2 linked regions of the Homo sapiens genome follow. The protein of the gene in region 1 interacts with the protein of each later gene in a pairwise test. Each region holds a gene or a part of one and is shown in the gene's direction. Other genes may lie near its edges.

Region 1 (3,932 bases):
TTTCTAGAAAGCACAGCCTCTGAGGGCTTCCAGGCTTCACGTCACCCCAACAAACTGCCCTGGGTCTGGGCCAGCAGGGCAAGGGGACACAGTTCCAAGTGTCCAGCTGCCTGGCCCAGCACTCTGGAGGCCTTGGCCAGGGCCCCAGGGAGCCCCCACCTGCTGCGGGCCCTGCTCCCCTGGCCCCTGCAACCACCGCGGGGCAGGACGCCTGGGACAGCCAAGATCCTGGCCCCAGACAAACGGGGTTCCCAGGGTCTGTGAGGACGTGGCAGGGCCTCTTGGCTTTCTGCTGACCTGAACCCCACTGGCCTTACCGAGGTCAGAACCTTGGGTACCTCCGAGTAAGGACCGTCTGCACCCTGGTGGCAGCCTGTATGGGGACTGCAGCGAGGGTGGGTGGGGGATACATCCCTGGGGCGTCAGTGGCCGGGTGGGCCCCCTTCCCCCTCTGCTGGGGTCCTCAGGGAAGGGCTTTCAGCTCTCAGTTGGGGTCCTCATCTGCAAAGTGCAGCTGATACCAATACTGCGCCGTTGCTGTTGGTGACACCAATACTGCGCCGTTGCTGTTGGTGACACCAATGCTGCGCCGTTGCTGTTGGTGACACCAATGCTGCGCCGTTGCTGTTGGTGACACCAATGCTGCGCCGTTGCTGTTGGTGACACCGATGCTGCGCCGTTGCTGTTGGTGACACCGATGCTGCGCCGTTGCTGTTGGTGACACCGATGCTGCGCCGTTGCTGTTGGTGACACCGATGCTGCGCCGTTGCTGTTGGTGACACCGATGCTGCGCCGTTGCTGTTGGTGACCAACCAGCCCCTGCCCCTCCCCACCCTGTGCCCAGACAGTGCAGGGGCCTTGCAGCCAGCACATTCGGGGCTTTGGGATCTGAGGCGGTGTGGCTGGGTGTGGTCTGGGGGTCCAGAGAACTCATTCTGGGGTGGAGGGTAGGGGACAGGGCAGGGTTGGCCTCAGAGGCTGGAGACAGTGTAGGTCCAACCAGGAATGAGACAGAGAGGCAGCAACCAGAGGCTTGAGTTGAGCTGGCCGGGAGGCCCTTGAGCCAGGGCACTGGGGAGCCACCGAGGGCTGTGGGACAGGAAGGGCCGTCCCGGACAGAGGAGTCCAGATGAGGACAGCAACCCGCCCAGGTCCTCTGCGCCTGCCTCCGTAGTCAGGCTGAATAAAGAGGTGGCTTTCCCCACCTGGCCCAGCTCTGGAGGGAGGCCCAGGGGCCCAGGTGTCAGCGGGAAAAGGGCTCTTCGGCAGGCTGTCTGCCCACACAGCCCTCCAGTGTGCCCGCCCACAGGCACGGGGAGGGGGAGGTTCACTGCTGCACTTGCTGGGGGAGTGTTTACGGAGTGCGCCTGTGTGTGAGTGCGAGCCCACGTGCGTGTGTGTGAGCCTGTGTGTGTGCACGCACTCAAGTGAGCAGGGGCGGGCGCTAGGAGGGCCGAGCCCTTGCCCAGGGTCCTATTTAAGCCTCAGGCATCCCAGCATTGAGGCAGCACTTGGCACTTTGGGCAGGGCGGTGGTGGCCCTGGGCACCTTGTGTCCTGCCTGCGCTCTGTGTGGCCAAGCACCCAGCGTGGCTCCCTGCTGCTGTGGAGACAGCCTGTGATCCGCGTGAGTCTGGGGTCCCTGGGGTCCTAACAGGTGGAGGCTGAGGGAGCACACGGGCCTCTGTGAAGCCGGGTGGGGTGGTCTTGGGCCGGGTGCATTCCCCTCCTCCGCAGGAGAAACTGGGCTTGTGCCAAAGCAAGAGAGACTAGAGTCAGACTGCAGGAGGGACTCTGAGGCCTCCGGGAAGGAGGGAGCCAGGGCTTGGGGCAAGGGAGAGGTTAGAGCAGGGAGGCGGAACCCCGAGTCCCACTGGATATGTTCTACTGGGACATAAATGCAGGGGAAGGTGGCCTTGGGGCCCAGGGTCCTGCTTCTGAGGGGCTCCAGGAGCCCCAAACTATCCAGAGCCTTTCCCCGTACCAGGCACTGAGCCACGGTTTTGCACCTGCAGTCGTGGGCCCCTGCCCCCATGTGAGGGAGGCATCAGCCCCTCAACAGCTGGCCCCAGCCTCAGGGAAGGGGAGGGCTGCCCGACATAGGACCCTGAGAGGGGCTCTGCCATGGGGCCTGGGACATGGCCCCTGACGGGTCCTGCCTTTCCCAGGAGGGACCTTGCTCAGTCCACCTGGGCCCCGGGTCACCTGGGGGAGTCCAGATTGGGCCAGAGGCAGAGGCCCCCCGCGGCTGTGCCCTAGGTCATCATAGCCCAGGAGCCAGTTCCTTTTAGACCAGGAGGCCACATCCTCCTGGGGAGGTACCTGTGTGGCCCCAACTGGCACTCAGGCTGGCAACCCCAGTGCCACCCTCTGCCTGGACCTGCAGCTCCCAGAGCCCTGGCCCAAGTGGATGTGGCCCTCCCCACAGACTGGGCCAATTCTCCCCTCCCTCCTGGCTGGGGAATCCGGGGGAGTGGGGGTGTTGCCTTAGGCCTGAGCCAGGCTGCAGGAGGAGAGCCCTGCGGGGAGAAGGGGGTGCTAGAACTCTCCCTCCTCAGGTCTGCCTCAGGGACAGGAGGTACCTCAGGCTTCCGTGACAGCTGGGGACTGACTCCAGGGGCCAGAGCCAGGTGGGGTCTCTCCTAAAACAGGGCTGTCCACAGGGCCCTCGGCTCAGCTCAAGGGTCTGAATCCCAGCTCTTTTTTGCTCCAGCATGACCTTGGGTAGGTCACACATGTCTCTAGGCCCCACTCTCCTGTGCCCTGGGCCGAGTCCAGCAGAAAACTGGAAGCAGGACGGGAGCCCTAGTCCTGGGCTGTGGGGGTCAGGTGTCGGGAATTCCAGTTGTCTGTCAGACAGCTGTCCGTCTCCTGGGCTGTGGGGGTCAGGTATTGGGAATTCCAGGCAGCATCGGGGACCCGGGAGGTGCCATCTCCACCAACATTGCGTCTCTTGTTAACTCGTTCAGCTGTGAGCCCAGCATTTGCAGACCTGGAAGAGGCCACCAGCCGTGAGATGGACAGGCTGGGGCCGGGCAGGGGCTGCCAGCGCCGGTCGGGAGGTGGACGGGGCTTGGAACCATCACAAACACCCTTCAGCCCTGGGGCCCGGACCAGGCCCTGTGAGGCTGGGTCACGGGGTGGACCTGCTTCAGCTGGGCCCCTTGGGGGGCCACAGGAGACCACGCCCTCCAGCCTCCCTTGTTTGGGTGTGTGGACTGAGGCCCAGGGCGGGGTTCATTCCTTCGAGTTCATTCACACAGCAGACACCGGTGAGGGCTGTGTAGGGCATGGACACAGGGAGCTCATGGCAGGGCTGACACAGGGTGTGGTGGGCACAGGGACAGGAGGCACGGGAGGCTTCCCGGGATGTCTGGGAAGTGTTCCAGGCCAAGGCTGGGGAGGCTGGCCCAGGGCAGGTGACGGACAGAGGCCTGGACTGGGGTAGCACCCATGAGAGGGGAGAAGTCCGGGGCAGTCGGCGGGTGCCGAGGGTGAGTGACACGTCCTGGGGGAGGGGTAGCCGGGTGCCGAGGGTGGATGACACATCCTGGGAGAGGGGTAGCCGGGTGCCGAGGGTGGTGACACGTCCTGGGGTAGGGGTAGCCGGGTGCTGAGGGTGGGTGACACGTCCTGGGGGAGGGGTAGCCGGGTGCCGAGGGTGGGTGACACGTCCTGGGGGAGGGGTAGCCGGGTGCCGAGGGTGGGTGACACGTCCTGGGGGAGGGGTAGCCGGGTGCCGAGGGTGGGTGACACGTCCTGGGGGAGGGGTAGCCGGGTGCCGAGGGTGGGTGACACGTCCTGGGGGAGGGGTAGCCGGGTGCCGAGGGTGGGTGACACGTCCTGGGGGAGGGGTAGCCGGGTGCCGAGGGTGGGTGACACGTCCTGGGGGAGGGGTAGCCGGGTGCCGAGGGTGGGTGACACGTCCTGGGG
Region 2 (3,600 bases), on another chromosome or scaffold:
CACAACGTCCTGAGCACCTACTATGTGTGCATTCTCTTAAAATGCAATGAGCATCGATTGTGTGTCCACATAACCCATGAGCACCTGCTATGTGTCCATCTGGGCACCAGCCCATGAGCACCTACTATGTGTGCATTCTCTTAAAATGCAATGAGCATCGATTGTGTGTCCACATAACCCATGAGCACCTGCTATGTGTCCATCTGGGCACCAGCCCAGGAGCACCTACTATGTGCCAAGCCTTGTGCCTGCCATGGATGCCTTGTGATCAAGAGCCACGTGCTTCGGGCTCTGGCGGGGACCGCAGCATCAAATGCACGAATGAAGACGGACTTAAAACCAGCGTCAGATGCCTCACCTCTAGGGGATGCTGATTCTGGGATGCCTTTTTCGTCTCCTAGGCTCCTCAAGGCCAACTGCGCTGGGAAGAGGGGGTGTCCAACAGCAGGAGGGCTGTTTTTTTGAACTACAATTTGCCAGCATACAGCAGAGCAGCAAGAAGATAACAGGGCGGGGGGCACGGGATTAGCCCAAACAAAACACACTCAAGAACGCGAGTCTGTGGTTCAACACGAGGCAGAAAACAGCTGGGCCGGGTGCGGGGCTTCTCCCTCGCGTGTATCCGCTCACTGCACTCGCTGCCCTGGCCGCGGGCGCCGCGCAGGGTGCTGATGTCCAGGAGGGATCTAGACCTCCCGCGGCGCTCGGGCTAGTGGACGCAGGTGGTCCCAAATGCTGGGACCAAGCTAGGAACCAAGCGGAAGCTCGGATTGCTCGGCATCGGGCCTCGTCGTTATTCTACCGTGAGGGAAACTGAGACCGAGGGCACGGCAGGGAGTCGCCCGCCGTCTCACCAGCGTGAGGGGTTGCGCCGGGCCCCGAAAACTGGTTTGCGCCGCCCGGCATCGGGATCCGGGACCTCTGCCCGCCGGGCGCTGCCTGCGCGTTCCTGGAACTGGGCTGGGCGGAGAAATCAGGGCCCGCAGAGAGGCATTCCTGCCGCCTTCCCCGCCGCCCGGGGCCGCAGGGGGGCCTGGCCAAGGTGACCCCGCGGGAGGAGGCGAGGGGTCCCCGCCCGCTCCGCCGCCGCGACCTCCTCCATCTTCCCGGTCTGCGGGGCTTTTCCTCTGGGCCCGCGCGCCCGGCCCCCTCCTCGGGCTTCCCCGAGGGCGGGACGTCTCGGGCTCCCCCGCCCCCCCAGGCCACCTCCCGGCCGTGTCCTAGCGCTGCCCTCGGGCCGGGGGCGGGGCCGCGGGGGGGGGGTGGCGTGAGGATGGGGCCGAGGAGGACGCGCGCGGCTCGGCGCCCCACTTCCCTCCCTCACCCCTCCCTCCCGGTGCCCGCTCCCCGCGGCCGCGCCGCCCTCCCTTCCCCCTCCCTCGGCCCAGCGCCGGCTCCCGCCGCCCCCTCCCCCGACGCGCACGCCCCGCCTGGCAGCTGGCGCCCCGGGCCTGGGGCCGCAGCGGTGAGAGGGGTTTTGCTGGGAGGGAGGGAGCGAGCGAGCGAGGGGAGGGGTGGAGGCCGCCCCCCGCGCCCCTCCTCCTCGCCCTCCTCCGCGGCCGGCGGGCCCTCCTCCCGCCGCCTCCCTCCTCCCTCCTCCCGCCCGCCCGCCCTCCCTCTAAGACATCCCCGCACGGCCCGGCCGCCGCGGCCACCTTCCCTGCCCGAGCTGCAGATGTGGCGGAGCGGCCGGGCGCCGGGCGGCCGTGCCAGGGGAGCCCGCGCCCCGTGAGGCCTCGCGCCCCGGCCCCCGCCCGTCCCGGCCCCTCCCCCGCTCGGCTCCCCGCGCCCCCCGACCGCCGGAGCCCGCAGCCCGGATCCCGACCGCCCCCGCCGCTGAGGTAGGAAGCCCCCCGGGCGTCGCGCCGTGGGGACCGGGCCGGGGCGGGGGGGGGGGGGCCCGCCTGTCGCGCCGGGGCTGCGGGGCCCGAGGGTCTCCTCCCCCGCTCGCGTCCGCGCCCCGGGCCATTGTGAGCCCTCGCCGAGGCCCCCGCGTTCGCTCGCTCGCTGGCTCGCGCGCTCCCTCCCTCGCCGGCTCCCCGGCCGGGTCCCTCGAGCTCTCGGTCTTTCTTCTCCCTCCTTCCTTCCCTCCGTCTGGAGGCCGGGCCGAGCAGCGCCCGGGCCCGGGGCGGGCGCAAACTTCAGCTGGGAAGTTGGGCGGCCGCGGTGGGGGGCGTGCGGCGAGGTGAGAGGGGGGTACCCGGAGCCTGGGCATGAAGTTGTCCGGGGCAGCCGCCCCTCCTCTCGGCCGCGCCGGGGCTGCTGCTAGGAAGGGCTTTGGAAGGTGCCTCCTCCCTTGGCCGGGAGAGTCTCCCTCCTGCTGCCCCTCGCAAGCCCGGGTCCTTCCTTGGACCTCGGGAAGGGGCGTCCCTGGGGGGTCAGGACTGGGAGTTTGGGACAAGTCAGGCACTTGTTACTCCCCTGCGGTCCGGGTGGACGCAGGCGACCGGCCTGGCAGGGAGGAGATGGCAAGGGGTCCATACTCGCCGGAGGGCGGGTCTGGAGCGGGTGGAGGAGGGGGCGAGGCAGGTGCATCCCGAGGGAGGAGAAGCACGCACAGCTTCCCCGCTGGCCCCCTGGGATGGGGCTGGAATCCAGGCTGGCACCTGGAGGCCTTGGCATGCTGCCCTGCCCAGCAGGGTACTCGGGCCACAGCAGGGCAGCGTGCAGCCTGTCTGCCTGTCCAGGAGGGCCCGCCCAGCCTGGCCAGAGGGTGGCCGGGAAGCAATGGTTTCAAGGAGTTGCCCAGCCCTGCCCTGGGGCCTGGGAAGCTGGAAGGGATGCTGGGAGGGGCCCTGGGCCCCCAGCCATCACAGCCCAGGATCTTGGCTCTGGAGGGAACGCTTGACACTGAGGGGGCAGCCAGGCCGGCTGGGGACCTGGCCAAGGCCTGGGCTTGGTCTGGGCCATGGAAAGGGCCTGGGCCATGGTTCTTGGAGGCTGGCACCCTGGGTAGTAGGCCGCCATCCTGCGTGTCCTGGCATCCTGGAGGGAAGGTGGGGCCAGCCTGCGGCTGGGGAGGAAGCCCAGAGACACTGCGCTTCGGAGGGCCTTCCAGCCCCCGGGCTCAGGGGAGGGGAAACTGGCCCCTTGGGTCACCCCTCCCCAAGCCCCATTCTGGTGCCACAGTGCCACAGCTGTCCAGGCCCAGCCCACACACCCATCCCGGGTGACCTCGGACCTCCCCCTCTGCTTCTCCTTCTCCCCAGAGCCCAGGCTGGGCCTCCTAGCTGGCCTGGCCTGCACAGGGGGAGGGGCTGCACCTGGGAGGCCCCTCCCAGGACACCCTTTGCCAAGCTCCAGCCTGGCCCATTTCACTGCCCACCTCCAGCTCAACTTGGCCCTGTCTGCAGCCAGCCAAGCAGGAGACAGTGCCAGGGACTTGGGATGGTGTTTTGGGGGGTGTGCGGACCCCTTGGAAGCAACCCTGTTTTTCTTAGCCTTTCCTCCTCCCCCTCCTTTCCGGAGCTGCCATTAGCGCTGACCCCCTGTGCCTGCCCGCCCTTCCCTGTCTGTGACCTTTGACCTTTGGTGTTAAATCCCTCCAGCTGGGGCTCTTCGGCCCCTGAGTGACCCTGGCCCAGGCCCCCTGGGGAGTTC

What was found. Proteins that work in one complex are often made in the same cells at the same time.
Region 2: the proteins of GPSM1 (region 1) and GLIS2 interact in binary tests that used the Homo sapiens proteins (3 or more experiments, as listed by UniProt).

Annotation. Positions count from the first base shown.
Region 1 is NC_000009.12:136,351,530-136,355,461, forward strand, and holds part of GPSM1 (G-protein-signaling modulator 1), read left to right. Parts: intron 1-1,506; exon of another isoform or gene 1,507-1,626; intron 1,627-3,252; exon of another isoform or gene 3,253-3,493; intron 3,494-3,932. UniProt on the Homo sapiens protein: Guanine nucleotide dissociation inhibitor (GDI) which functions as a receptor-independent activator of heterotrimeric G-protein signaling.
Region 2 is NC_000016.10:4,314,414-4,318,013, forward strand, and holds the start of GLIS2 (zinc finger protein GLIS2), read left to right. Parts: upstream 1-1,653; 5' UTR 1,654-1,841; intron 1,842-3,600. UniProt on the Homo sapiens protein: Can act either as a transcriptional repressor or as a transcriptional activator, depending on the cell context. Acts as a repressor of the Hedgehog signaling pathway. Represses the Hedgehog-dependent expression of Wnt4.